Homo sapiens: one gene and its partners. The protein of the gene in region 1 interacts with the protein of each later gene in a pairwise test. Each region holds a gene or a part of one and is shown in the gene's direction. Other genes may lie near its edges.

Region 1 (3,968 bases):
CTGCCACACAGGATCCCGAAGGCAAGCCGAAGAAGACACACATCCAAGACAACCATGACGGCACGTATACAGTGGCCTACGTGCCAGACGTGACAGGTCGCTACACCATCCTCATCAAGTACGGTGGTGACGAGATCCCCTTCTCCCCGTACCGCGTGCGTGCCGTGCCCACCGGGGACGCCAGCAAGTGCACTGTCACAGGTGAGCCCGCCCGCTGTTGGCCGCTGCGGCGCTCGGCACGGGGCTTGGGTTGTGCCTGTGTGCAAGGGCTCGCTGCTTGGGGCGGCGTGTGGGAGTGGGGGCCGCCCCCTTGAGTGACTCACCTGACCTTTCTCCTTGCTCTCTGCCCTCTCACCTCAGTGTCAATCGGAGGTCACGGGCTAGGTAAGCTGCTTGCTGGGGCCACTCCCAATGCCCCTCCTGCCCAGAGGGGCAGCTTCCTTTCCTCTTGGGGCCGATTCCCAGGACAGTTCCAGCTGCAGCTCTAGGCAGGGACAGAGTTGGGTGGGGTGCAGAAGATGAGGCCGTGGGCTGGAGGGCGAGGGCCCAGGGAGGCTTCCGGAGCTGAGCATGACCGCTCCAGCTCTTCCCCTCTCTGGGCCTTTATTTCCCCATCTGAGAACTCGGGTTGCAGCTGAGAGCTTTGGGGTGAGGTGCATCCTGAGAGGCACCCCACTGGGGACTTTGGGGTCTCGGGATCTTGGCACCCAGGGAGGCACAAGGGCTCCTGCGTGGGCTGAGGGAACAAGGGGTCTCCCCAACTCAATGGGAGCCCCAGCCCTGGCCAGATCCACAGACCCCCATCCCCACCTTCCAGGGGCCTCTGCGTCCCGGGCCGGGGGAGGTGCATGAGCGGGTGGGGCTGGCTGGTAGTGCAGTAGCGCCAGTGTCGACTGCTTGGGCGGCCAGCATGGCGGGGCCCGGCCCAGCCTCAGAGCCCCAAAGTGCATTCTGTGGCCCGTCTCCCTCCTTCCCCCTTCCCCTATCCCCCAGCAGTGACGTTATTCAGACATTCCCCAACAGGCATGGAGGGTCACCTGCCCCAGCCAGGGACACCCAGGGATGCTGATGAGAGGCTACAGGCCTGGCACTTGGGCGAGGTGGCTAAGGAAAGGGTGAGAGGGTGGCTAGAGTTTTGCGGCAGGAGCGAGATGGCTTTATAGAGCAGGCCGTAGGATCCGATGTGTGTGTGACAGGCGTGTGTGCGCAGGGCGGGGGAGGCTGGGGAGTACTGATTGCAGGGCCTTGGGGGCTTTGAGGGTGGGAGCAAGACTCAGTAACCTCAGTTTCCCTGGCTACTGTTTGCAGAATGGAGACAGGGAGCCCGGGGTGGGGAAGGGGGCGCTGAAGTTGCTCTCTGGCAAGCTTGACGGCCACGGGGCTTCAGTGAGAGCCAAATTAGGAGGCATACTTTGAGGATGGAGTGGCTGAGACCTGCGGTTGGCTGGGAGCCGGGCAGGGAAAGTGGGGGCAGTCGGGTACCTGTGAGGTTGGGGCCCAAGCCACTAACTAGATGGCATGGGGTGCACATGAGTGAAGCCTCCCAGGGCAGCGTGGGCAGCCGGCAGCCAGGTCTGGAGCCTGGGAGAGCTGCCTGGCCGCGGCAGGCCAGCATGGAGCCTAGTGCAGCAGGAGCCCTCGGCCGATAGTGGGACTTGGTGGCAGGGCCCCTCGAGCTTGGCCTTCAAGTAGGTTTCGTGCTCCTGGCTGCTTCCCTGGCAGGAGGCCAGGCTGCAGGGGGCACTCTCACTGCCAGGCCTCACAGCCCACAGCCCCCCAAGCCTCCACGGCGGAGACCCAGATCATAACGTCACTGTCTCTCCCCTTTCCTCGGGCACTCTGGGGCCCTGGAGCCTGCTCAGCTGCTCTGCCCTCGCAACCCAGCAGTGGTGGCTGTAGCTTGGGCCTCCTGTTCCCTGTCTCCCTGGGTGCTATCCCCGCTCTGCCAAGCCTGCTGCGCTGCGCTACTCGGGTGCTAACCCCGCTGCCTCCCGCTTCCCCGCTCCCACTCCTGTCTGCACCGGGCTGCTTTTCACCGCGAGCCTTCTCAGTTGTCAGGAAACTCCGGTTTCACCATCAGGCCTGGGGGGTGGGGAGGCAAGTGTCACATCCCCCCACGCTGCAGCAGGACTCCGCCTCACCGCGTCCACACACAGCAATGGGGGCCGGGGCCAGGCCAGAAGGGCGCAGGCAGCCGTGTGCCCAGCCAGATGCTGGCGTTCAGCAGTGTGGGCCATGGTGCTGGACGAGGCTGAGTAGGCAAGGGAGTGGCTGTCAACACTTAGGCTGGAGTGGGCCCTTCCTTTTCCTCCCAGGCACCTGGGTGCTACTGTCGGGCCTCTCCCACATGGGCACTTGAGGTGGTCAGGAGAAACCTTCCTGCCTTCTGAGAAACCACTCGCCATCCCAGCTTGGAGGGGCAGGGCGGGGCAGGAGGCCTGGCGGCCTGGCTGTGCTTGGTGGTGGCAATGAGAGGCCTGTGTGGGCGGCAGGCGGACGGGAACAACCTGAACCCGAGCTCACACGCTGGCCCCCCTTTGGGGACCCACCCTGCCCCACCAGGTGCTGGCATCGGCCCCACCATTCAGATTGGGGAGGAGACGGTGATCACTGTGGACACTAAGGCGGCAGGCAAAGGCAAAGTGACGTGCACCGTGTGCACGCCTGATGGCTCAGAGGTGGATGTGGACGTGGTGGAGAATGAGGACGGCACTTTCGACATCTTCTACACGGCCCCCCAGCCGGGCAAATACGTCATCTGTGTGCGCTTTGGTGGCGAGCACGTGCCCAACAGCCCCTTCCAAGTGACGGTGAGGAGGGGTGGGGGGTAGGTCAGCAGGGGTGTCTGGCAGGTCCCGGCCTGTTCCCCTGGGGCCCCTCTGTGACAACAGACTCTCCAGCAGCTCTCTGCTTTGCCCTGCAGGCTCTGGCTGGGGACCAGCCCTCGGTGCAGCCCCCTCTACGGTCTCAGCAGCTGGCCCCACAGTACACCTACGCCCAGGGCGGCCAGCAGACTTGGGTACGGCCTGGCCAGCTAGGGACACTGGGGCTAGCCAGCTGGGTGTTCTGTGAGCCCCTAGTTTACCATGTGTGAGGAGGGACCCCAGATCCTCCCACTGTCCCTCACCCATGCCCTGTGTCTCCACTGCAGGCCCCGGAGAGGCCCCTGGTGGGTGTCAATGGGCTGGATGTGACCAGCCTGAGGCCCTTTGACCTTGTCATCCCCTTCACCATCAAGAAGGGCGAGATCACAGGTGAGTGGGGACTTGGGAAGGAGCTCGGGAGCCAAGGAGGCCAGACTGTGCCAATGAGCTGCCCTGACCTCAGCCCCACTGCCCCACAGGGGAGGTTCGGATGCCCTCAGGCAAGGTGGCGCAGCCCACCATCACTGACAACAAAGACGGCACCGTGACCGTGCGGTATGCACCCAGCGAGGCTGGCCTGCACGAGATGGACATCCGCTATGACAACATGCACATCCCAGGTGGGCCTGCCCTGCCTCTGCCCACTCCACCGCCACCACCTCACAGAGAGATGGGGCTGGGGGACACACGAGGCTGCCATTCCACAAGGCCCTTCTTCCTGCCTCAGGAAGCCCCTTGCAGTTCTATGTGGATTACGTCAACTGTGGCCATGTCACTGCCTATGGGCCTGGCCTCACCCATGGAGTAGTGAACAAGCCTGCCACCTTCACCGTCAACACCAAGGATGCAGGAGAGGGTGAGCAATAGCTCTGGTCTTGACCTGCTCTGTGCCCGGGATGCCCTCACCGGGGTAAGGGCTGGACTCAGGAGATACTCCTGAATGGGGCTCCCTGCCCTGCTGCCCTGGCCATCGGAGCTCCTCAGTGCAGGCCAACTGGAGTGTCCCCAGCATAGTTCCCATGCTCACCCACGGCTCTCTCCAGGGGGCCTGTCTCTGGCCATTGAGGGCCCGTCCAAAGCAGAAATCAGCTGCACTGACAACCA
Region 2 (2,581 bases), on another chromosome or scaffold:
TGAAGTGAAAGGACTGTTTGAGCCTAGGAGTTCAAGACCAGCCTGGGCAACATAGCAAGACCTCATCTCAATTAAAAAAAAAAAAAAAAGAAGAATACATACCAAAGCAAAATATGTATTCTCTACTGGTCAATATTTGAATTTTGCCACTACCTCCCTCCATTAGCTTGGGAGAATTGAGATTTTACTTGATTTGATTTTAGCATTTGTATTTGGGGCCACTTAGGTGTTCCATGCTCATTTCTAGATCACATGCCATGAATTAAAGTTCTGACAAAAGAAGTCGTGACATTTTATTTAGTTCTTAAATGCACCTCACTTCTATTTGGAGCCAGAGAACTAGAGGCTTGGGATCATAGGAACCAGAGCATTTTGGTTGTTATGAGCTGAGACCTGTGCAAAGGAAGCAACTTCATTAGCAAGGCTCTTGCCCCCCACCACCCCTTCCTCACAGGTCACCTCTCTGTTCCCTGCAGACAGTGGTTCAGTTGGAAGGTGACAATAAACTGGTGACAACTTTCAAAAACATCAAGTCTGTGACCGAACTCAACGGCGACATAATCACCAATGTAAGTTGGTGGTGCTCTGAGCGTGTGGCTCCCAGTGCTTGAGGGGAGAGGGGAGGTGAAGCATGGGGAGCGGCTCACATACCCTAATGCCACCCCTCCACCCTCCAACCCCCAAACTTCTTTCCTGTGGTCAGTATCTGCCAGCACTTACTGAGGATCCATCATGTCCCAGGCAGTTTACACACATTATCACTAATCCTTTCTGCTCAGCGCAACCAACCAGCCACAGAGGCCTCCACCTGCCCTGCATGCCCAGGGTGCTTCATAAATGCCTTTGCCCATTTAGCGTTTATAAAGAGAATCCCATTCATGGTCATATTATGGCAGCTTACAAGCCTGGCACAGTCCAGTTATGCAGTCAGCCTTGGTGCCTGGCTGCCAGCCACATCCTGTACCCTATTTGGGGGTGAATGGTGCAGTGTTTCTCCTGCAGGTATGTCCCCCTGACTCTTCTTTGCCCCCAGAATATGCTTTAGGGAGTCACAGACAACAGAACACTGCCTCAGGGCGCTGTCATCACTCTATTCAAATGGAAAAATTCTTAAACTAGAGAGAGTGTGAGCATCAACCACCCAATGTGCAGTTTCCACCTCCGCCCCAGCACATTCCCAGGAGAGCAGGGGAGCAGGAGATGAGCTATCCTGCAGTAAGTCCTGGCCAACGCCCTTTGATAGGTTCCATCTCACCTAATCCTCCTGTCTCCTTCGAGGGAGGCTGGATGAGGGATTCAATAGACAGGTTGACCTGTCCAAGTCATCAGCTAATAAATGTTAAATCCAGGGCTCAAACCCATCAAGCAGCAACTATTGCATTGCTGCTGAAACTGAGGGGCTCCTTTTCACCCTGATGACATGGTATGTCATTCCAGCAGTCTTATTCAAGAGAACTGGCAGGGGTGGAGGAAACATCCTTAAAAACTCAAAAGCTGATGCATCCACTGTTTTTATATGCTTCACAGCTATAGGAGGACAATTATGCACTACCCACTGCCTTCCAGGCTGTGTGCCTAGTTGTGTCCATGTACATGTATCCTTGGTGCTCAACATGTATTTGGTGCATAGTAGGTACTCAATGAAATTTTGAGAAATTAGATTGGGCTGGTTTGGATGGTCTTGCTATAACAGTCATTGATGTAGAAAAGAATTCAGTCAAAGGCAGGAGGACTTTCCAGGTGAGGAGGAGAAGTGACAAAGACTTGGCATAGGATTTTGGAAAACATTGCCAACCTTTCCTCCGGTCCTACAGGAAACCAGACGAATTTTTGAATTGTTTCATATGCCAACATATTTGGTGCTGTTTTTTAAGCTTAATTTTGTTTTTTATGCTTAATTTTGTTTTTTACAATACAACATCAGATGAACACTTCATAATTTCTTTTCTGGCTTTCAGACCATGACATTGGGTGACATTGTCTTCAAGAGAATCAGCAAGAGAATTTAAACAAGTCTGCATTTCATATTATTTTAGTGTGTAAAATTAATGTAATAAAGTGAACTTTGTTTTAAAAAAAAATGTCTTCTCAATGCCTTTTCATTGATGGTGCTATTGCTCACCATATTCTCGTAAATATACTTTCGTAAATGTTGATAATCCACATGATCCACACTACCAGGTCAAATCCGAAGAGTAATTCCCTGAACACAAAACCCATGCTGCACACCCAGGTGTTCTGCCAGGAAAGCCAGGTGTGGCTAGATCTGCAGGAAGGCCCTGGAATGCCCTTTCCCAGTCAGGCACACGGGCAAGGAGCTGGAGCCAGAGGATGTGCAGTGGGCTGGCCTTGAGGGTGCTCTCTGTGGGGACAGGGAGCAGGAAGACTGGGCAGAAAAGGAGAGCTATACCCACAAGCACAGCCACAGTACCAGCCCACCAGCAGACAGGTGCAGAAAGGTCGACACTGACCCGCCCAATAAACTTTTCCTCCTGTGGGAGGCTGAGCAAAGGGCTTAGTGAGAGGCGCCAGAAGTGGACAGAGGAGGCTCAGTGGAAGTTCCCTCCATGCTATGGGCAGG
Region 3 (4,955 bases), on another chromosome or scaffold:
GCAGGGCCTGATTGAGGACTGCCAGCTGGCGCTGCAGGTGAGGGCCTTCGGAGTCCCCATGCCTATGTTCCTGGGAGAGCTGCCCAAGCAGGTATTAGAGCAGAAAAAAGGAGATATGGGGTATGGCTTGGAGAGCCTGGCTTTGGCTGGCCATAACCCCAGAGAATTTGAGGTGCCATCTTCTGCATCCCTGCCGCCTCAGGCAGCACCCCCACCCCAGCCTCATGCCAGGACCTTTGCAATGGTTAAATAGCTGCTCTCTACTTCCCACTGTTCCTATGCAGCCAGTCCAGCTGTTACACTCGCACCTGAGTAATTATCTTTCAGCACAACCCCGATCTATTCTCTCTCTTGCTTAGAAATCCTAAATAGCTCCCTCATGTCACTAGGGAAAAACATCTAAATTTAAATTGAAATATAATAACCTCTGCGATCTGGCCCTATCCTGGGAGGCAGCATTCTCCCATGGCTTCCGCCCCCCAGGAGCTTTCTAATTCTTTTTTTTTTTTAAACAGTGAAATTCTTTATTCAAATGAAATCTCACAGAAGCAGGGCCACTCCCAGTAAAACAGGGTTGGGGATTCTAGAGACCCCACCTGCTAGGCTCCACTTTTGTGGACCCCTTAGGGTTCTGAGGAGCAGAGCTTGGAAAGTGAAGCCAGGACATAAGGGTTCTGTGTCACCTCTGTCACAGCTGACTCAGTGACCTTCAGTGAGTCCATTCCTACCTCTGGGATTCTGTCCTCGGGTTCCGAAAGACAGGGAAGGGAGAAAAATAAGTACAAAGTAGTGAGTTTTACATAAAGCCTGTTATTCTGTTCTATTTTTACAATGTTAAAAATGTCCTTTCTTTTATGTTACAATAGTAAGAGAAGATTATAAAAGTTTCTTTTTGAATGCCCTTTATAGATTAAAAGGTTGCCTCCCTGAACAACTTTTGTCTCAGGGAATACTTACTGGTTCTTGAAGCCCAAAGGTGTAGAACTCCTTTGGACAATATCCATGTTTTTCAAACTTTTTGATTGCCTGCCATAGGGAAAAAATGCATTTTAGTACTCATTATATATAACTGAAATAACAGTTCTATAAAAAGATACTTTTAGTGAAATGTACTCTGATAATCTTTCTTTTTAATGCTGTTTGGGACCCATTACTTATTTCATGACCCATTAATAAATTACCACTTGCATTTGAGAAACATTCATTGTACTAGATCTTGGAAGTGCATTCCTGCTCTGTAGCATTTTTGTTTTGTTTTGAGACAGAGTCTCTCTGTCGCCCAGGCTGGAGTGCAATGGCGTGATCTTGGCTCACCGCAACCTCTGCCTCCCAGGTTCAAGCAATTCTCCTGCCTCAGCCTCCCAAGTAGCTAGAATTACAGGCGCCTGCTACCACGCTTTGCTACTTTTTTGTATTTTTAGTAGAGACGGGGTTTCACCATGTTTGTTAGGCTGGTGTCGAACTCCTGACCTCACGTGATCCATCCGCCTTGGCCCCCCAAAGTGCTGGGATTACAGGCGTGAGCCACCGGCCTGTAGTTTTAAATTTACTAATGTTAAAACTAAAGTTTTAAAACCCGGCCTGTAGTTTTAAATTTACTAATGTCATCATGTACCCACTGTGTGTCAGGAGCAATTCTGCTATCTGCTTGTGTATACATCTTGTATCCTTGTTTGACGTAAAAAGAAACGCGAGGGAGCTTGGAAGACGTGTCCAAGGTGAAAGAGCTGGGAAGCAGCAGAGCTCAGATTTGACCCCAGGCTACCTGACTATCTGACCTTCAGCCTCCCAAGAGCTGTACTTTTCTATACTCCTGCTCTCTCCTTTCCAGGTTCCCTCTGCACCTCACGCAGCTCAGCACACTCCTCAGTGTGTGGCACTTCATCAATATTGGTCTATGCAAACCTTTTGTCTTTTAGTTTTATTTCTTTCCCTTCATTCCCAGTCCCCTGCCTACTTTCCTTTTTCCCAGGGGCACCCATCCAATTTTAATGTTTTGATACATATGCTCGAAAAGCTAAAGCATTGTTCTGCATATGTGTGCATTTTAAATGTCCATAAATGGCATTGAAGCTGTGAATCAGTTTCTGTTGCATTGTGTTTTTTTAATTCAGCACTTTTTTTCAAGATCTATTCATGCTGCTCCAAGTACATCTAGTTCTTTGCTTCTAACAGCTGCAGAGAAATCTGCGGTGTTCATTCACCATATTTTGTTCATACATTCCCCTGAGGTTGGAGACCTAGATTGCCTTCCAGTTCCTGCCCCTACAAACCGTGTCACCATGAGCATCCTGGTACATGCTCCCTTCTGATTCTGTGCCAGTCTCCTGTCATTGTAGCTGGGAGTAGAATTGCTGGATAACAGGACACCTGCAAACGGCGTTTTAGTAAATATCATCTAATTGCTCTCCCGAATGGTTATAATACTTTATCCTCATAATGAGCAGTGCATAAGAGATTACATTTCTGCATGTCCTCATCAAGACATGGCATCATCCAGCTTTCTAATTTTGCCAATCCAATGAGTGTAGCGTGATCTCATTTTCATTTGCATGCCTCTGATTACTAATGAGGTTCAGCATCTTTTCATATACTCACTAGTGTTTTTTTGTTTCCCTTCCTGTGAATTGCTTATTCATGTTCTTTACCAGATTTTCTGCTTTTTTCTTTTTCATGTTGCTTAGCAGGAGATCCTTGCATATTTTAGTTTAGTTCCTAGGGATAATTAAGCCCTACTGCATATGGGTATGTCTTATACATTCCCTAGGGCATGGATTATATACATAACAAATTAACCTCTAAGCCTGTAGCATGGGACTATTTACCTACTGTTCTCAGCAAAGTTCAGAAAACACTCAAATTATTTGCTGTTTTTTTGTTTTTGTTTTTGTTTTTCTTTTTTTGAGGTGGAGTCTTGCTCTGTCGCCCAGGGTGGAGTGCAGTGGCGCGATCTTACCTCACTGCAACCTCCCTCTCTGGGGTTCAAGTGATTCTCCTGCCTCAGCTTTCCGGGTAGCTGGGACTACATGTGTGCACTACAATGCCTGGCTAATTTTATCATATTTTTGGTAGAGATGGAGTTTCGCCATGTTGGCCAGGCTGGTCTCGAACTCCTGACCTCAAGTGATCCACCTGCCTTGGCCTCCCAAAGTGCTGGGATTCAGGCGTGAGCCACCGTGCCTGGCCATATTTGCTGGTTTTTGAGATTCAGATGAGGAACTTCAGTTGAAAAAGTCTGTTCTAGATAAAAATTTCTAGTCAATGTAGATATCGCCAATATTTTTTCTTAGAATGTCACCCACTTGTGGCATCTAGCATTGAATGGAAATCCTTGATTTTTTAAAATTACAAATAACCATTGATTATTTTAAAGCAGTATTTATTAATTGTAGAAATTTCAGAAACACAAATAATCTAAAAAATAAAAGCACCAAATATTCTTCCAGGTCGTTTCCTGTGTGAGAGTATGTGTGTGTGTGTGTGTTTGCTTGCCAAAATACAATCGTGTTGTATGAAATGTTTTATAATCTGTTTTTTGTTGTTGTTAATAATTGCCATCTTTACATGTCAATAAATTTTTATTTAATATCCAGTCCAGGGCATACTCCGGTTTCTCCAGTTGTTCCAGAAATGTGTTTTTACAGCTGGTTCATCAAACCAGGGTCCAGTCTAGATCTTCACGTTGCATCTGGTTATCTGCAAGTTAACAATGGAAAGCATGACTTTACAAATAGTTTCATGTAATAATGTTGAAGAGATGATAAGAGTTATAGGTATTCTATGGCACGAATGTAATTACTGGTTCAGGTAAGGATTATCATTGATAGGTAACTGCCTTAATACAGTTACCATAATAATACCATAAGCATTACTTTATTACATAAGCCAAATAATACCATAAGCATTACTTTATTACATAAGCCAAATAATACCATAAGCATTACTTTATTACAATCCAAGGGGTCCCTTTTTCCTCACGATGCTGGCTTGTTAAAGAGACTGCCAGTTGTCCTGCACAATGACCCGCTTTCCAACTTTGCCTGGTTGTTTACTCCCGGTATCGTTTGGTTTATTACCCAGCCTTATCCTTAATTTCCTGTAAACCAGACTGTAGATTTTAAATGACTGATATTGGGTGGGCACGGTGGCTCACGCCTATAATCCCAGCACTTTGGGAGGCCAAGGCAGGTGGATCACTTGAGGTCAGGAGTTTGAGACCAGCCTGGTCAGCATGGTGAAACCCCATCTCTATTAAAAATACAAAAATTATGCCAGGTGCGGTGGCTCATGCCTGTAATCCCAGCACTTTGGGAGGCTGAGGCAGGTGGATCACAAGGTCAGGAGTTCAAGACCAGCCTGGCCAACATGGTGAAACCCTGTATCTACTAAAAATACAAAAAAATTAGCCAGGCCTGGTGGTGGGCATCTGTAATCCCAGCTACTCAGGAGGCTGAGGCAGGAGAATCGCTTGAACCTGGGGAGGCAGAGGTTGCAGTGAGCCGAGATCGTGCCACTGCACTCCAGCCTGGGCAACAGTGCGAGACTCCATCTCAAAAATAAATAAATAAATAAATAAAAAATTACAAAAATTAGCTGGGAGTGGTGGTGGGTGCCTGTAGTCCCAGTTACTCAGGAGGCTGAGGCAGAAGAATTATATGAACCTGGGAGGCAGAGGTTGCAGTGAGTCAAGGTTGCACCACTGCACTCCAGCCTGGTCAACAGAGCAAGACTCTGTCTCAAAATAAATGAATAAATAATAAAATAAATAAAATGACTGATATTAAACATTTTGTTTAGAATACATTTTAGGTAATATTATGTATGTATTTCACGTTGGGCCACATCAAGCAACCCATAATATTGTTAATATGACTCGTCATTAATGACGTTCATAATTGGCCCCTGGATCTAGGGGATGGTGGTTTGATTTCTCTATCATTGTTACATTTCCTTGT
Region 4 (4,955 bases), on another chromosome or scaffold:
GGCTGGTGATTATAACCAGTCTGACCTCATTATCTGGGCTTCATGTTCCTCATTGGCATTCTAAGAAGAAAATGACAGGGAATCAAAAGGAAAAACTGATAGTGTGTACAGTGGCACACACATCATCATTACTGCCGAGCTAGTCTGTCCTAAACAACTATAAAAATTCTAAGAAAGTCTCTTTACAAGGGGCTATGGCCATTTATTGTCCCAGAGACTAGATGGAATCAAAGCTTCCCAAGATACAAGAGAGTTTAAATCTCTAGGGACCTGACACTCATACTCCATAATTGTGACAAGTACACTTTGACATGGCTGTTCACAAACTCATCATGGAGACCTTAAGGATGTTGCTCTTCAATTAATTACATGCTCCCACACAGTTCATAGCTATGACGGGAAGCAGTGATACTTCAAATGTTAACATTCCAATGATAGGAAAAAGGTCCATTTTCCCAAAATACTAGACAGTCATATATAATGGAAACTGCAAACCTCCGAAAGTGTGTCTGCGTGTGGGCAAATAGTAAAATAGCATTGAATACACAATGTCTTCAAACACAGTACACAAGTTTGACAGTTATTCTAACTGCTCTAAAATTCTTTTTATCAGATTCACTGCTAACATGCATGGAAAATATGATGACAAATTCGGAGATTCCTAAAAGAGAAAAGAAGGCTATATAATACAATCAATTATTACATTGTCTTTTTTCACAATTCTGTAATAATTGATGGTAATTCAATAGATATTTATCTTTATCTAACTTTATCTTTAAAACTATCCCAAGTTTACTTATTACTGCTACGGTTTTAAATTGCAGCAGCTGAAATATAGTAGGACAAATGCATAATTTGGAATAAGACTAAATATTGCATTTCACCTTGATCACATCGTCTCTGTGCCCTGAGCAAATAGTTTAACTTCTCTAACCCTCAATTTTCTCATCTGAAAAAAAAAATGAATCCTCTCTTTCGGACTTTCAAGAAATTTAATTTGGAAGATATAAGGGAAACATTTGCATCTACTACAGTGTTTCTCAAAGTGTAATGCACCCAGGAATCACCTGGGGATTCTGATTCAGAAGCTCTGCATTGGGTGCTAAAATTTTCAGCTTCCAGGTGATGCCAGTGCTACTATTCTATTATTGCTGATGTTATCTGGAAGCTGGTTTATAATGCAAAATCTCATGTCCCACCCAATGCCTACTGAATTTCAATCTTCCTTTTAACAGGATCTCCAGGTAATTTTTATGAACTTTAAAATTTGAATAACATTGATGTAGCAGTAGATCTTGCTTATTGCTGATATGCAGTCGAAAATATTATAAGTTTTGAATCATCACAAGAAAAGTGTGTAGAATATAAATGAATATAATATGTTTTTTCCTCTTCAAAATCTGATTTTGAATTATATTTCCCAGGTGTCACCGGAAGCTAAAGAGTGGCCTTGCCTCAGGTCAGGTTTCTACTCCCTGACAGCCTCTCAATTAGCTGCTGTTGTAATGAAATTATGCATTGTCAAAAGCCTTTTTGCATCATTTTCTTCACCAAATCTCAAGTTTTAAGTATTTTATATAGAAACTACATAAAATCCAACCCTGCTCTGCCCATTCCAGTGGCTGCCAGATAGCTGGTTTTCTTTGTGATTTTGGGCTGTTGGTTTTCTAGGAGAGGAGGAGAAGATTAGAGCAAGTTAAAACGCCACAGACCTTGCTGCTCTTACTGAGATTCAGCCATTTTTCTTAAGTAAACACTCTCCAGATTGCATCAAGCCATTAGTTAATTTACAGAATTCCAAAATAGTTGATTCTGGAGATTTTTGCTAGTTGCTTATATGGTGAAGAGGATTTTTGGAGGTCTTCACTACACCATTCTGGCTGATGTCGCTTAAAATGCCCTGAAGTTTTTGAATGGTGAACAAAAGTCTTATGGATTTTCATTATCTTGATATATTAGAGAAACCATGCATCCACCTGATTGTATTGGGCTCCATTTACAGATGCCACTAAAATATCTTGATAGTTTGAGGCAATTATTAGATGAGAGGTCACAGTGACCTCCTCCTAAGAAATATTTCTCAGAATTAAATGTCAAATTTTTAATAAACATTGTATTATGATTAAGAGCCCAGGTTTTTAATGAACCCTGGGATCAAGCCCTGGGTCTGGTCCTTAACGTGTAACCTTAATCAAGTTACTTAACCTTTATAATACAGTGATAATAACAGTATGTATGTATAGATTTATTTCAAAATTCAATTAAATTACAAAAGCAAAGTGCTTGACACAGTTCATGGCACAAAGTAAATGCTCAAGATGTTTTAGCTTCTATTGCTATTATCATAGTTAAGAATATGGTTTGGTACTGATAATAATAATGAATGTTCTCTTGAATGTGTTTCTTTAAGAGTCACATTGAAATAGAAATAAATAAAAACTGTCTCACTCATGCTACTTTATGTTCTATGCAATTCTAGGCACTGTGGTGGTCCAGCAGTTGATGTCAGTGATGATTAGCAAACATGATTGCCTCTTTCCCAAAGATGCAGAACTACAAAGCAAGCCCCAAGATGGAGTGAGCAACAACAATGAAATTCAGAAGAAAGCCACCATGGGGCAGTTACAGAACAAGGAGAACAATAACACCAAGGACAGCCCTAGTAGGCAGTGCTCCTGGGACAAGTCTGAGTCACCCCAGAGAAGCAGCATGAACAATGGATCCCCCACAGCTCTATCAGGCAGCAAAACCAACAGCCCAAAGAACAGTGTTCACAAGCTAGATGTGTCTAGAAGCCCCCCTCTCATGGTCAAAAAGAACCCAGCCTTTAATAAGGGTAGTGGGATAGTTACCAATGGGTCCTTCAGCAGCAGTAATGCAGAAGGTCTTGAGAAAACCCAAACCACCCCCAATGGGAGCCTACAGGCCAGAAGGAGCTCTTCACTGAAGGTATCTGGTACCAAAATGGGCACGCACAGTGTACAGAATGGAACGGTGCGCATGGGCATTTTGAACAGCGACACACTCGGGAACCCCACAAATGTTCGAAACATGAGCTGGCTGCCAAATGGCTATGTGACCCTGAGGGATAACAAGCAGAAAGAACAAGCTGGAGAGTTAGGCCAGCACAACAGACTGTCCACCTATGATAATGTCCATCAACAGTTCTCCATGATGAACCTTGATGACAAGCAGAGCATTGACAGTGCTACCTGGTCCACTTCCTCCTGTGAAATCTCCCTCCCTGAGAACTCCAACTCCTGTCGCTCTTCTACCACCACCTGCCCAGAGCAAGACTTTTTTGGGGGGAACTTTGAGGACCCTGTTTTGGATGGGCCCCCGCAGGACGACCTTTCCCACCCCAGGGACTATGAAAGCAAAAGTGACCACAGGAGTGTGGGAGGTCGAAGTAGTCGTGCCACCAGTAGCAGTGACAACAGTGAGACATTTGTGGGCAACAGCAGCAGCAACCACAGTGCACTGCACAGTTTAGTTTCCAGCCTGAAACAGGAAATGACCAAACAGAAGATAGAGTATGAGTCCAGGATAAAGAGGTAAGGAAAATCTGGAGGTCGTAACTACCAGAGAGGGCTCAGTAGCCTCCTACTGTGGGACAGGATCACACTGAGGGTGACATATGCTGGCTCCAAAGTCAAAGAAACACAAGTTTGCTCCATCATTTATGAGCTTTGTGACTGTGTGCAAGTTAGCTTCATCTCTGTGAGCTTTGATTCCCTAATGTAAACAATTTAAATACTAGTAGTATCTACCTCAAAAGCACATAAGAAGTGATTGAACATTTCCCTGGTACAGAATAGGCTCAATAATGTCATCTTTGATTATTATTAAATAGATAGATTTGCATTAGAGGGCTGGAAGGAGAGGGGCTGTGAGGAGATGGACAGAGCATTAGGAGCCTGTTAGTTTTCACTAACAAGAAAAGGATGAAACTAGGGTAAAAAAAGTAGAAGTAAATAGACCTCCATGTTTTATTCTTTCAATCATTGAATGTTGAGAGAGTGCCTTCTATCTGCCAGGCTCTGTTCCAGACGCTGAGGATTCAGATGAGCTGAGAGAGGCCATAAGAGCCAGGTGACATAGGGGATTGACAGGCTGATTTTCAGCCTTTGACTTTTACTCTGAGATAGAAATCCATGGAGGTTTTTGAGAAGAGGGGTGACGTGAAGTATGTTCACATGAATAAGGAAGACTGTAGCCTAAATGAGGAAAAAAGAATATGATTTATAAAGAAGCAATTATGCTAAAACCTAATTATATCAATGTGCATCTTCTCATAAAATGATCAAAGTAGGAGTAGCTCCTCTAGTGTTCTCAGTCCCAGTTTCAGGCTGTGTGATTTGGACAACCCTTCCTCCATGGTGTGCTAGGATCCTCAGTTGGTTGTTAAGTTGGCTTTAATTTACCTTAATATGTTTCCTATCCATTCATCAATTATCAGACAAAAAGATAACGTACTTTCAGAAGCTATGGCAAAATAAATATTAAAAAATACTACTTATAAATGAGATTGAAAAATTACTTCCTTGGAAAGTATTTTTTTGGTAAGTTTCACTGAGTGGAATTGTGGTTTGAATTTTTCTATATAATGGAGAGTGACAGGAGATTTAAAGAAAAATATAGGGTCATTATCTTAAAAGGTTACTCTTCTTTCTGAATGTAGTTTTTGGAACCACTATGTATTGGAATTCTGAATTACTGCCAATCCATGATGATAAATTAGCATTTCACACTGGGAAGCTTATATTTTGAGGCAAGGGGTCACACTTTAAATGTAGTAGAAAAAGAAAAAAGTTATCACTATGAATTTGCAGATGGATACATTCATTTCTGAGGATGTTGCTGATGCATATATGTTCTGAGATCTACGGTATATTTCAGAGATTTTGATAAACTGATAGAACTTCCCAATAGAGGTCATCTTAATGGGCCATTTC
Region 5 (4,955 bases), on another chromosome or scaffold:
TAATGTACTGGCTCCTCACACAATAACTGTGGTGTTGGCACCAATGGACATCATTCTCATGTGCCTAAAGAAAAGTGCCGCCGTTTATCTTCCTGCACCTCCTGCAAAGCATCTCCCACCAAGTGTATCTCCAGTCTGATCACCATACTTGTTTGGCTAATACCACTGCTAGGTGAAATAATCAAATTTTCTGGAGCGTTTAATATATTTGAGAAGCTTGGTAAATTATCTGTAGTGGATAAGAACAGATTTTTGTACTCTAGAAACAGATGTTTTCAACATAATATGCAGCAAAATTATTCTATGCCTATTCCCTCCTAATTTAAGGGCGTGCAGATGAAGGCTGACATCGGCATAGAAATGTGCTAAATTTCAAATATGGTTGTTCAATAATATATTTTTAATTGTATTTTAAAACATCCCTTTGTAGGGAATATCAGTAGAACTATTGAATTGATGTTGTATTTTTGCATTAGCTGTCCTTTAATTTTGCTTTCCATGTCTTGATCTTGTTACCGAAATGCATTCTGTGTAATTTCAACGTAGACTACGTTCCTGAGTCTGATGATGTCATTGTAAATAATCATTCCTCATGTTGCTCTCACGGGTTTGACATTGGAGGATAGATGTGCCATCAACTTTAAATAGAGTTTCCATCTTTTGTCAGCTCTGCATGTCATACAGCAAGATGGAACACAGGTTGCAAGAAAGAACCAACGTTATTCCTGACATTCTATTGATGTGTTTTGAGCAGCAATGTGTAACCAGGTGTTTCTGCTTCTAATCTTGATTCTGCTGATGACCATTTTTATACTTTATGGCAAAGCCTCATTGCCTCAGTTTCCTGTCTGGAAAATGAGTTCATCATCTACCTCTTGGGCAATTGAGAGTTTTCATTTTGTGTCTTTTAAACATCTGGAAAATGGAAAACACTGAGGGCTAAGGATAATGATATTGTTTAATGTAATTTGTCATCAGACCGGCCTCCTGCTCACTATTTCTTTTTTTTTAGATGCTGTTTTTTTAGAATATTAAATTAAAGGAGTGCTGTTAATATGTAATCTTCAACTAGTTCCATGGAGGAAAGTGATGTTTTATGAATTAGAGCTTAAATTCCTATCTAATTTCTGAAGACTGCATTCTTTTCAAAGACTTGAAATTAAACTCAGGAGGATACATTTTGTTTGTTCTAGGGGGAAACGTAATAGAATGGTATGAGATGAATTCTATCCTTTTACAATAATTATTACTATAATATTGAAGTATTCTATGCCTTTCTGAAACACTTTATTCAGAAAAGATCATTTTTTGGCTTCCTTTTAAAAATAAGCTTGAAGTAGGGAAGCATTTGCTTCTTAGATTTTAAATGTAGTCTTATTATGCTGAGGAAAATCTTTAGTTGAAAGAATAATTCATTACAGATTTTTGATGAAGGGAAGAAATTAATTATGTTGCTGGAAGACTGTCTACAAATAATCAAAATATTTAAATGTAATGTATTCAAGTTGTTATTAAAAAGTTACTGAATGTTATCTGAAGATGTGAAATGTGTAGTCAAGTAAAAAGTTGGCGTATACTTTCTTGGGCTGCATATCCAATTTAATTAAAAAATTAAATCTCAGTTTCCTTCTAAATTTTGATAGAACTATATTAAAAGCTTGTATACACAGCATTCTAGGAAATTTCTCTTAACTATCTTTTTTTTGTTTTTTTTGTTTTTTTTTTTTTTTTTTGAGAAAGAGTCTTGCTCTCTTGCCCAGTGCAGTGGTGCCATCTTGGCTCACTGCAACCTCCACCTCCGGGTTCAAGCAATTCTCCTGCTTCAGCCTCCTGAGTAGCTAGGATTACAGGCATGCCTACCTAATATTTACATTTTTAGTAGAAACCAGGTTTCACCATGTTGGCCAGGCTGGGCCTCAGCCTCCCAAAGTGCCAGGATTACAGGTATGAGCCACCATAGCCGGCCTCTTGTATCCTTTTTGTCCAATTTCAAATAATGTGTGAATCTTGCCTAACTGCTGTTGCCCACGTTGAAGCTAAAGAGTAAAAACCTATTCATGAACAAAGAAGGCAGGTGAGACCCGGTAACAAACTGTCTCTCTTCCCACTTTCTCTTTCTTATTAATTTGGCAGGATCTCCCTTCCCATTTTGTCAACATGGTTGAATTTGTGTGTTGGGGTTGTTAGGGCATGGGAATTCCTGGTTTGCTTTCTCTATTGCATGCTTGTTCATGTTAACTCTTTGGGGAGCAGAATGAGATACATATGCATCCATGGTTATGATGGAAAAAAGCATGCAAAATCCATTTTTAGAGAGAGAGAGAAAGAGAAAGGTGGGGGTGGGGGAGCACAAAGATCAGAAGAGTACTATGCTGATATTCAAGATATAGTACAGATAGCTTTCTGTGTACCTATCCATCTACCTATTCATCTGGGCTATTGATTGACTCCCACAGCAGTAAAGAATAATTACGCAGTTATTCTTCTGGTTATGTTTTAATTTCAAAAAGTTAAGTGTGATTTTCCTTTTTGCTGGGATTTCTGTCTTGAGCAAATAATTATTCTTATGAAAGTATCAATTGCAGTTACTGGTTAAAAATGTAAGACCTAGGAAATTTAAGTGTTGTTTCTATTTTAAGGTATATACATAATTTATAACCATTTACTTCTAGAGAAAATCCTGAATGGTTAGTAATATCAAAACATTTTCAACAAGAAAACTAAAATGAAAAGAAAGTTTAAAAATTACATGTGTTACAGCTCTTTTAGAATTTGTCTAGCAGGTTTTCTGGTGAAAATTAAACTCAAGATTTTCACCAGAAAACGTTTTAAAACTTCTAAACTCTTAAACAAATTATAAATACTTGATACTTTGAAGAACTGCAAAACAAAATGTTTTTAAGTTTTCATAAGGCAAAATCATTGAGTTTTCCAGCTTTGATTTTCCAATAAAAGGATGTATAAATATTTGGTGGTAGTTTTTCACACTCAATTCCAAGAGAAATTTACTGTAGGAATCTGTACATTTGAATCTCTGAATATTCTATGATATTTAAAATATTTGAACAAGATGCAGAAAATTTTTTAGCTATATTAATCAATAATGGTAACCTCTATCACTCATAATCAAGACACATACTTAAAATAGATGACTACAAGACCCTTCTAACTGCTTTGCTCAAATTTAAATTTCCTCAAGTAGTTCATAGACCCTTTACAACCTGGCCTCCCCTCTCTGGCCTCGGTTTGATCCCCTCCTATTACCCCCAACCCCTAGTAAAGTGACATTTAACTTCAGGGTTTTAACATATCATGCTCTTCTCTCCAGCCCTTTCTTCCTATAACTCTCTTACTATCTTCACCACCCTATCTTCATGTGACTTAACTCTTGCTTATGTTCCAGTTCTGCTGAGACACAACTTCCCCTGGGAAGCCTCCTGACCCATCAAGTCCAGAGTAGATGGTCCTGCCATGTGCACTGTCAGCACCTGCACTGCCCAGCCACGCCCCTGAATATACACAAAGGAATCGCAGGTTTGAGCATCAGTCTCCTCTGGCTAGGCTGTAAGAACCTTATCAGCAGGATTCATGACAGCCCTGTTGTCATTGTATTGCCAGTACCTAAGACACAGTCACACTCAGTAAACTCTTTTGAATTGAATTGTTGCCAAAGGTAAACAAAGATAAACCTAGCTTGTTTTTCTCCCCTTTTTAGAGGGAGGAGAGGGGAAATGTAAAAAGACAAAGATGATTCTCCCTTCTTATAGACAGGAGTCAATCCGAATCAGGCCCTAACAATGAAGCACTCATGAAAATCTCTCACCTCATCTGCAAAACTTGTGTGAGAACCCTCCAGACCCTCTGGGCTAGACCCTGATTGAAAATTTGAATTTAAAAATAGATGCTGGCTCCACGGACTAAAATAATAGTAAGGAGGAAAGAGGAAAGGTCCAGGATTGTTGTTCCTGGATCAATATTGTTCCAACATTTTAAAGTGTTCCAACATTTTAAAACATATGTACTTAGGCATAAATCATCATCCGGTATGAGGAACTGGATGCCTCCACTCTCTATGACTAAATCCAAACTGTCAAAACCAGAATTTATGTACTTCTTTAGAACACTACGTAAATGATCAATATTTAATTGTAGCTGGGGCTCAGTAGTCTGGGCTGTGAACAGATCTTATTTGAAACCAGTATTTCATACAAACTTGTAAATATAAAGAAAGCCAAATCCAAGAACTTAAGAGTATTTGAATTCCAAATGAAGAAAGGAAAGAATATCTTATTTTGTTCTGCTTTATGTTTGTCTTTATTCATGACCATTTCTTACTAAAAATCACCATCTGAAGCTTTTGAAACTCCTGTTGTATGCACAGCATTTTAAGTGCAGCCATGAAATAAGTTAGTTGAAACAAAATAAAATATCTCCTTCCAGTATGCTCTGATATTGTGTCAATGTAAATGCCAAGGCATGACAGACTGTTTTCCATTTATAATAAGCGGAATCTTGAGTTGCATTGGAAAGCTAAAAGATTTGCGTTGACTTAAATGAAAGTGTCCTTTTTAAAGCAAAAACAATTCATTTTCTCTGTGCTTATCACAGGAGATGAGATTTGAATGTTATCAGTTGTGCATGAATTCAACCTCAAAAACAGGAAGCACACAGCTGTGATTTTGGCCTTTTTCCATGAATCTCCACAGCACTGTTCCTTTTGATGGTGAGAGTTTGTATAACATCATGAACCATCTGAGCATCAGTGCAGGTTGGAGGCATGACCCTCCTCAGGGTGAACAAGCCTTTGTGTTGAGAGTTTGAGCATTTGGCCTGCTCACTCTTCCTTCTGTTCAACAGCAGTTTCATTTGTGTAACCCAGGACATGGCAAATCGGATTCATTGGATCCTCCTTTTTGTACCACAAAATTAACTTCCTATCTTCCTTAAAGAGCAAG
Region 6 (4,955 bases), about 13 Mb from region 1:
ACTGTGTAAGTTATTCTGACACTTTTCCGTCCGATATCATGTTTTTGAAATTCAATCCTGTGGATATGTGCAATTATAGTTCACTTAGTTTTACTGATGTACAGCATTCCATTTTATGAATACACTAAAATCTATGTATTAATATTCTTCCAGTGGGCACTTACATTGCTTGGTGGCAAATTTTCAAACTTTCTATTGTCTGAATATGTCATTGTTTCACCCTCACATTTGAAAAATATTTAAATTTGGCGTATGAGTTTAGCTTGGTGGGCCTAATCCCTTCTCATTCCCTTGCTGAAAAGTCAGCTCTCAGTGTAGTTGCAATATGTGAATTATCTTTTCCCTCTGAATTCTTTTAATATCTTCTGTGTGCCTTTGGTATTCTGCTGTTTCACTGTTATGTGTTTAGGTGTGCATTTGTTTTCATTTATTTCACTTAAAATTTGTTGGTCTTTCTGTATTTGAAGTTTAATGTCTTCAAAAATTGTGGAAAAACATCAATTATCTCTTTGACTATTTCCTTGACTCCTATTTTCTAGAGTCTATTGAGATTTTAGTTACATATATGTGAGACCTTCTCACTCAATACACCACATCTTTTAATTTATTTTTTATAATTTAATCTCTGTTTTTATTAGGCAGTATTCCAGATAATTTCTTCAGATTATTTTCCTTTCCAATTTAAAATATCTGTATAGTATTTGCATTAACGAGAAATTTTTATTTAGAAGTAATAAAAACCAATGCCAACATTACCAAACATATGATTCAGCCTTCTAGGAAAGTTTTGGAAATACCCTCTAGTGTAATTGAACATTTTTTTTCTCATTAGCTCACAAGACATTTTATTTCTCAAAAGTAATTGGTAATTTTTTTTTAAGCGCTAACGTTTTCAGCCATTCTAGGATATAGTATATGTTTACTGATACAATATTTTCTTCATTGATATTTCCTTTGCTAGTTCTTCTGCATCAGCATTTTGAGTAATATAAAAAGGTAGTCTGAGGCACTTTTTCGTACTTGGTTTAATTTAGGTATGAATAATGTAAAGTGATGATTTGTAGGAAATCTCAAAAATAATTTCCCAAGTTTTGCAGTTAGTGCCAAGGACATTTTGCAAATGTACTTATAATTTCATTTAGATACAAATAAAGAACTAAATTAAAAGAGAGGTAAAATGCTTATTTTCTTTGGAGTGCAAAACTTGCATACAGATATTGATTGCGTACAACTCTGTTTATAGTGATAAATGAGAATAGTCTTTATGATGGTAGAAAAAAATTTCCACACATAACAGCAAAACTTTTCATAAGGCTTTGGTAAGAAATATATGATAAATTATCTTTAAAGTCTTATATGCCAATATTAAGCTTTAAGTTTTGCCGAATAAAAGTCGTAAATATCATCATTTCAGCTCCAGTCGTATTTTTAACAAAGGGATTTATATGGTGACAAAACAGAAGTTATGCTTGAGGTGTAAATGTATTAAGTGAATATATCTCTACTGACATTCAACTTCTATGAGCTAGCTAACCTTTAAATGCTAACAAATTTGCCAGTAGACACCTGACTCCCATTTATTTAATGTTTTATTATAGTTGTTATGTTGTATGTTGTATTATTTTAGAGAAACTAATAGAATTAGTTACTATTTAAGAGTTACTTATTTTGTTGTGGTTGTATTAATTAAGCTCTTATAGGGGAGAAAAAGCTCTGTAAAGTAGAATAGTTTCGTTGAAAAAGGATTTATGGGCAACTGTTTATGACCAAATCCTGGCACTTGCATTCATTAGCTGTATGACTAGGAATCTTTTCTGCACTTAAGTGCCCTCATTTGTAAAGTGGATATTATAATACATATGAATACATATGTGATAGAGGTATAGTGAAAGTAAGTTAAATAATAAATTTTAAGCATCTAAAACAGGGTCTAACATCATATATTGAAAATGTATTATGTTTTAGTTGTGATACCAGATGCTAAGATACGGAGAGGACAGACAGCTCCTAGCACATAATAGGTAAGTTCATTTCCACCAATTTAGTGGTTCTTGGTCTTTATTCCGTTTCAGATTCAGATCTGCACTGCTTACTCAACAGCCAGTTCCCATGTGTTTTTAAATTCTTGTTGCTTCCTCACCAGTGTTTTTTTTTTTTTTTAAATAAATGTGTTCCAGTTACTTTCCACTCCTTTTCCAACTGATAGGATAATGTACTTATGCATTCAGAAATCTACAGTTGCTTTCTATTACAATTGATTACACCTCTAAACTTGCTGGCCTAAGAGGGGGAGTGGGTGATGAGATTTAACAACAGGCGAGTTGCTACAATATACAAATCTCTATGATTGGCAGTTTACTGTGAGTACTGAGACTCCCACCTTTTCTAATAGTCTTGCCTCCTTAAGGGATCCTAACAGGACAATGAGATGAAAATATTTAATAGTACAGACAAAGACGCTACCTATGTTTTCAGAAGGCTTGTAATTCTCTCTTAACTCACAAACTCATTTTAATTATTTATTGTGCCTTCTCTTTCTCAAGTCCCCCCAAGATGGTAACAAAACTAATTATATCTCATCATTTACTTTTACAGTATGTTAATTCTACTCTGGTTCAACAATATCTCAACAACACAATATCTTCATTACCTAGAAGAGTAAGAATGTAACTATGTGCATCCAAGTTTTTGCACTGACTTTATATATAATTTGACAGTTGTTGTCATTTAATGAGCTCCATTGTTAAATTATGATAAACTACTGTTGTTGCTAACTTTAGTTCTTCTGGAATAGGTCATATTACTCTCATTTTATGGGAAGCTGTAGTTTACTTCCACTGGACAAATTCTTGAGTCTCATTTTTCTCATTCATAAGATAATGATAATGGTACCTGTTTCATTGGGCTTATAGAATTAAGTACAATAAAATAAAAGCAATTACCCCAGTGCATTATTTACTATACACTAAATAGATGGTAATTTCACATGAATGAGAATATCTGAATAAAATCCCATTCACCTATATTATGTATTAGATGAACTTTAGAATCATAGAATTTAGAAATAGGGCAGTATGTTGGGAATTCTGTACTCTAGTGATTTCCAACTGTGTTGTAGGACACATTGGGTTTCTGAGGCTGTTGCATGAGAGGAGAACAAGCACTTGTTACCCTCTTTCACGTTATTCAACCAAAAGAGTTGTAGATTTCATTCACATCATAATTTCATTACCTTATAGAGCACTTATTGGGCAGATTTACCTCATTCAATTCATGATACACCACATAATCTGAAATAACCAACCATCCCAACATAGCACCTTCTGAAGATGTTCATAGGTCATTATGGATGGATTTCTTAATCACTGCCACAGTCCAGTCATAGTTATAGATATCAAATGCTTCAGAGAAGACTGAATATTCCAAAAGAAAGTATGTGTAATATTGATAAGTATGTTCTCCAAAACAATGAAGTTCAATTAGAAATCAACAAAGAAATAAATTTGTGAAATACACAAACAATTGAAAAATTAAACTACACATTTCAAATAACCCATAGGCTAACAAATAAATCGTACAGATAATTAGAAGAATGTCTTTAGCTGAATAAAAATAAAACCAAATATCAGAATTTATGGGGTCTGGCTAAAGCAGTGTTTAGAGGGAAATGTATAGCTATGATGCTTATATTAGAAAAGAAGAAAGATCTTAAGTAAATTAATCTCAACTTCTACCTTCAGAAATAGAAAAAGAAGAGCAAATTAAATCCAAAGCATACAGAAAAAGTAAATATAAAGATTAAAGCAGAAATTAATAAAAGAAAAAACAAAGTAAATACAGAAAATCCATGCAGCTAAATGTTGATTCTTTGAAAATGAAAACAAAATTGACAGCCTTGTACCTAGACTGAACAAGAAATTAGGAGAGTGGATATTGCATAGTCAGGATTATCCAGAGAAACAGGACCATCAACAGGGTATGCATGTGTGTATGTGTATGTATACATATGTGTGTGTAGTATGTATGTATAAATATATATACACGCATCTATATGTATACATATGTATACACATACATGTGTATCTAAAGAGGCAGCTATATAGAGAGATATTTATTTTAATGAATGGTTCACTTATTATTCTCAGAACTGGAATAAGACAAGGATACCCACTCTCACAACTCCTATTCAACATATTACCGAAAGTCTTAGCCAGAACAATCAGAAAGGAGAAAAAAAAATGAAAGATGTAGAAACAGAAAAATAAGAAGTCAACCTATCTATCTTCACTGACAATATGATTCTATAAATAGGAAACCCTGAAGACTCCACCAAAAGGCTTCTAGAACTAATAAACGACTTTAGTAAAGTTTCAGGATACAAAATCAATGTACAAAAATTAGTAGCATTTCTATACACAAATAACATCCAGGCTGAGAGTCAAACGAAGAACACAGTTTCATTTAAAATAGCCAAACGAAAGTGAAATACCTAGAAATATATCTAAGCAAGTAGGTGAAAGATCTCTACAAGGAGAACTACAAAGCATAGAGAAAAGAAATCAGTGACAACACAAATAAATGAAAAAAAATTACTTGTTTATGGATTGAAAGAATTAATATTGTTAAGATGGTCATACTGCCCAAAGCGATTTATAGATTCAATGTTATCCCTATCAAACTGCCAACATCATTCTTTACAGAAGTAGAAGAAACTATTCTAAAATTCATATGGAATCCAAAAAGAGCCTGAATAGCCAAAGCAATACTAAGGAAAGGACAAATACCTGAGGTGATGTATACCCCATTTACTTTGATGTAATTATCATGCATTGCATGTCTGTATCGAAATATCTCATGTACCCCATAAATGGATACACCTAATATGTACTCACAAAAATTAAAATAAATACATTTATAGAAAGAACAAAGTCAGAGGCCTCACATTACCCAGTTAC
Region 7 (3,671 bases), on another chromosome or scaffold:
TGGGTGACAGAGCGAGACTCCGTCTCAAAAAAAAAAAAAAAGGTTGCATGTGCCTCTCAAACAGATTCACTGGTTGTTTATATCTTGCCCTATTTGAGAGGAGATTGGTGACATCCTGCCCTTTAGCCCCCAGATACTTCAGTGTGTCTCTTAAGAACAGGGACATCCTCTTCCATGACAGCAGCATAGTTGTCAACGTCAGGGAAGTGCACACGGTGACGCCAGCACCTAACCCACACGACACGGCTCAGTTTCACCCATCGTCCCGATAAGGTCCTTTCCTGGCTTACTTTTCTCCCCAGTTCAGGATCCAGTCAGGGTCCTTCATTGCGTTTAGCTGTCTCGCCTCTTTAGTCTCTGTGAAGCCAAGACAGTCCCTCAGTCCTTCTTTGACCTTCTTGACCTTGACATTTCAGAGCAGCCCACACCCGTTAGGCTTCAGAGCATCTGCCCAGGGCCCTTTCGTGTCCATGCTGAGGGCAGGGAATCGGGCTGCCCCCAATCCTGGGTTCACTCCGCTTCCCTCCTGCCCTTTCCAGCTGCAACTCTGAGGTCAAGTACGCCTCGGAGAAGCATTTCCAGGACAAGGTCTTCTATGCGCCCGTACCCACCGTCACGGCCTACAGCGAGACCATCGTGGCAGCACCCAACTGCACGTGGCGCAACTACCGCAGCCAGCTGACCCTGGAGCCACGCCCGCGCGCCCTGCGCTTCCGCAGCACCACCATCATCTTCCCCAAGCATGCCAGGAGCACTTTCCGGACCACCCTGCACTGCAGCCTGGGCCGGCCCAGCCGCTGGTTCACCGCCAGCGTGCAGCTGCAGCTTTGCCAGGACCCTGCCCCCAGCCTCCTGGGCCCTGCCACGCTCTGACGGGGCTGGGGCCGGCCCGGGGTGCTGGAGGAGCCGGGAGCCCTGGGGAGAAGCCGGGAGGATGGACACGATGAGCTCGGCCTGGCACTCGGGCAGGAGGCGGGAAGGGAGGCTGCCAGACCAAGGACCCGTGTGGAAGGAGGCGGCTCCCCGCTGCCTGCCCTGACCTACAGGCTAGGTGGTGGTCTCCTTGTTTTGGTGTCAAGGACTCAGTAAAAGCATCTATTTTTTTAGCACTTAAGCTGGCAAGGCGGTAGGGGCATGCACTGTTAGGTGGTGGCCACCCCCAGGGTCAGGGGAAAAGAATGGGTCCATGGAGTGCCCTTGAAGCAGAGAACAGCCCCGAGCAGTGTGAGGACAGAGGCATCCCAGCCTCAGCCGGTGGGGACGGCTGCCACTCCCCCAGAGCCCTGCCACCCCATGTGTCCTAGGCTGGTGGCCAAGGCCATGTGTGAGGGAAGAGGGGTACCTCTCTTCCCTGCTGCTGGCCTGGGGTATTTCCAAAACAGCCTTTTCGCACACATGCAGGTTGCACCGAGAGGTCTGGAGCTGTGGCTGAGCCACCTCTGGCGGATGTTGAGCCAGGAGGTTGGGCAAAGGCCGGATGCTGATGCCAGCGCTGGAGGTGGTGATACTGGGGGCGGGGAAGGCCTAGAAATACTTTGAGCCATGGCCTTGCCAGTGTCCCGTGCCCTCCAGTGTCAAAGATTTGGGGCACTGCCCGTCGAAATGGAAAGGTTGGTGCTCAGCCTCTGGAGCCTCACCTGCAGGGCGTCCCCAGCTAACACCCATCCACGCACCACCTCCAGGACGAGAACCCTTGATGTCAAAACCAAGTGCCCAGTGGAGGCGGTGAAGCTCTCGGAAATGCTGCCACCTGTGTGAGGCCGGGTCTGAACTCGAGGGAGTCGGAGCTCAGCTGTCGGTTTAAAGAGACACTGAGGGGACCGGGCTGCCGCCCTCAGCCTGCATTCCTGTGCGCAATCGATTCCGCAATGACAGCACCTTACTCCTTCCTGCGGCAGGCTCACCCCTGCCTGTGGGATGTTGTGAGAGGAACATGAGCCAGACAAAGACTTGGCTCAGGGCTCCGTGGAACAAGCCAGGATGCACGGGGAGCTGGGGGAGCCCCCAGCCTGGGGCAGCCCAGCAGGCCGCTGAACAAACACCCCAGAAGCCAGCACTGTGGCAGGGTGCTGGGGAGATGCCCCTCTGAGCCTTCCTCCCCCCTCAGACCTGAATGCACTCCACAGTTGGGGGCTGCCCCTGCCACTCCCCTGGTAATGCATAAAAGGGGAGGGGAAGGTTCCCTGGGGCTTGAGCTCCCTCTGTGGAGGTGAGGAGGGGAGATTCCGTTCACATCCAGGAGGGGCAAAATGACTGATGTATTTTTATGTATCTACACAGAGAGTGCATTTTCTCTCCAGAGATGCTGTCTGGTTAACAAAGGAATAACTTAAGAAATTGATTGATTATCTTAATAAACTGTGCAAACCCAACGGGACTTCCTTTTCTGTCTGTGAGACCTTCAGCTCCCGCTGGGGTTGGGGAAGGGGAAGATGGGTCTCCAGGCCCCTTTTCCTGTGTGGCCATCACTTTTTTTCCACTCGGAGCTTGTGCCCTAAGGAGCTGGCCTTGGCCCTGATCAAAGGAACAAAGAAGGACTCAGCCCCCACCCCTGTAGACAGCCTAAGCGTACACCACCTCCACACGCCAGCTCCACCCAAGAGCTAATTAATAAATGCAGAGGCCTGGGACCTACCTGGGGACTCAGATCTGGGGGGCAGCTCCTTGGATGGGCCCGGGCATCTGCACTTTGGATGGCGTGCATATCTGCAGCTCCATATCCTGGTCGTCAGCTCTGGCAAGCCCCTCAACCCACAGCATCCCTGGAGAAGGGCCCTGGCTGCCACTGCGGAGCAGGCGGCTGGGACGCACCTTACAATCTGTTTCTCTCCATCTCGCCCTTGGAGAGGCCCATGGGGCTCCATGGAGATAGTGAGTGTGTTAAAGGGAACACTCGGCAGCCAGGGGACAGTGAGTCAGACTGGAAAATCAGACTAGAATTTGCTCCCAGGCTCTGGAGTTGGTGGGGGCAGGGGATAAGGGAGTGTCCCCAGAGGCTGCTGGGGACAGGTCTTCCGAGGGGATGTGTCACAAGAGTGCCATGGTCAGGACTGGTGGTAGCCTCTTGAGGTCCACACCCTGGTCTGGCAGTGGTTAAGCTAACACTAGTGGGAATGCTATGCGTGCTAATTCAGAGCACTCATTGGATTTCAGGCTCTGTAGGAAACATTGCATATGAAAACTTGCATGCCATCCCTACCCGCTGACATGGATGCAACCGCATCTCCACTTCACAGAGGAGAAAGTAAGGCACAGAGAGGTTAAGTCATTTGCCCACACTGGTAGGATGCAGCTGGTAGGAGGCAGAGACAGGATCTGAACCCAAGATCCGGGACACTCTAAACCACCGGCTGCCTGCTTTGATGGAGGATGGCCCCTAACAGGGAAGGGGGGATGGAAGCCAGAGAGGCTGAGTCCAACACAGGTTCACATCAACTCGAGGACGAATCTTGAGGCCTCCACTGGTCTACACGGACAGAAGCACGCCTCAAGACCCGAGCCCTGCTTTACTCATGGGATTCCCTACAGATGCCTGCTGGGGGTGGCATTCTTTGCACCTTCCTTAATCCATGCAAATTCAACTCCACAAGCCTGATTTTCAATCACAACCTTGATCTCTCACCATCTCGAAGGGAAAATGGATAAGGCTTTCCGACACTTGCAATTATAGT

Evidence for each region.
Region 2: the proteins of FLNA (region 1) and FABP1 interact in binary tests that used the Homo sapiens proteins (3 or more experiments, as listed by UniProt).
Region 3: the proteins of FLNA (region 1) and KCTD13 interact in binary tests that used the Homo sapiens proteins (3 or more experiments, as listed by UniProt).
Region 4: the proteins of FLNA (region 1) and ARHGAP24 interact in binary tests that used the Homo sapiens proteins (3 or more experiments, as listed by UniProt).
Region 5: the proteins of FLNA (region 1) and CCDC141 interact in binary tests that used the Homo sapiens proteins (3 or more experiments, as listed by UniProt).
Region 6: the proteins of FLNA (region 1) and MAGEC3 interact in binary tests that used the Homo sapiens proteins (3 or more experiments, as listed by UniProt).
Region 7: the proteins of FLNA (region 1) and RFLNA interact in a two-hybrid assay, tested with the Homo sapiens proteins (2 studies listed by BioGRID).

What each region holds. Positions count from the first base shown.
Region 1 is NC_000023.11:154,353,667-154,357,634, reverse strand, and holds part of FLNA (filamin-A), read left to right. Parts: intron 1-11; coding exon 12-201; intron 202-360; coding exon 361-384; intron 385-2,562; coding exon 2,563-2,810; intron 2,811-2,923; coding exon 2,924-3,019; intron 3,020-3,151; coding exon 3,152-3,254; intron 3,255-3,343; coding exon 3,344-3,484; intron 3,485-3,591; coding exon 3,592-3,720; intron 3,721-3,907; coding exon 3,908-3,968. UniProt on the Homo sapiens protein: Promotes orthogonal branching of actin filaments and links actin filaments to membrane glycoproteins. Anchors various transmembrane proteins to the actin cytoskeleton and serves as a scaffold for a wide range of cytoplasmic signaling proteins.
Region 2 is NC_000002.12:88,122,482-88,125,062, reverse strand, and holds the end of FABP1 (fatty acid-binding protein, liver), read left to right. Parts: intron 1-476; coding exon 477-569; intron 570-1,958; coding exon 1,959-2,009; 3' UTR 2,010-2,081; downstream 2,082-2,581.
Region 3 is NC_000016.10:29,918,272-29,923,226, reverse strand, and holds part of KCTD13 (BTB/POZ domain-containing adapter for CUL3-mediated RhoA degradation protein 1), read left to right. Parts: coding exon 1-37; coding exon of another isoform or gene 38-91; intron 92-1,265; coding exon of another isoform or gene 1,266-1,373; exon of another isoform or gene 1,374-3,696; intron 3,697-4,955. UniProt on the Homo sapiens protein: Substrate-specific adapter of a BCR (BTB-CUL3-RBX1) E3 ubiquitin-protein ligase complex required for synaptic transmission.
Region 4 is NC_000004.12:85,992,104-85,997,058, forward strand, and holds part of ARHGAP24 (rho GTPase-activating protein 24), read left to right. Parts: intron 1-2,479; coding exon 2,480-3,554; intron 3,555-4,955. UniProt on the Homo sapiens protein: Rho GTPase-activating protein involved in cell polarity, cell morphology and cytoskeletal organization. Acts as a GTPase activator for the Rac-type GTPase by converting it to an inactive GDP-bound state.
Region 5 is NC_000002.12:178,829,244-178,834,198, reverse strand, and holds the end of CCDC141 (coiled-coil domain-containing protein 141), read left to right. Parts: coding exon 1-26; 3' UTR 27-3,403; coding exon of another isoform or gene 3,404-3,441; 3' UTR 3,442-4,442; downstream 4,443-4,955. UniProt on the Homo sapiens protein: Plays a critical role in cortical radial and GnRH neurons migration during brain development. Regulates cortical radial migration by negatively controlling the activity of histone deacetylase 6 (HDAC6) and promotes centrosome maturation.
Region 6 is NC_000023.11:141,844,062-141,849,016, forward strand, and holds part of MAGEC3 (melanoma-associated antigen C3), read left to right. Parts: intron 1-4,955.
Region 7 is NC_000012.12:124,313,653-124,317,323, forward strand, and holds the end of RFLNA (refilin-A), read left to right. Parts: intron 1-539; coding exon 540-873; 3' UTR 874-2,372; downstream 2,373-3,671. Other genes in the region: ZNF664-RFLNA (refilin-A), read left to right, coding at 540-873. UniProt on the Homo sapiens protein: Involved in the regulation of the perinuclear actin network and nuclear shape through interaction with filamins. Plays an essential role in actin cytoskeleton formation in developing cartilaginous cells.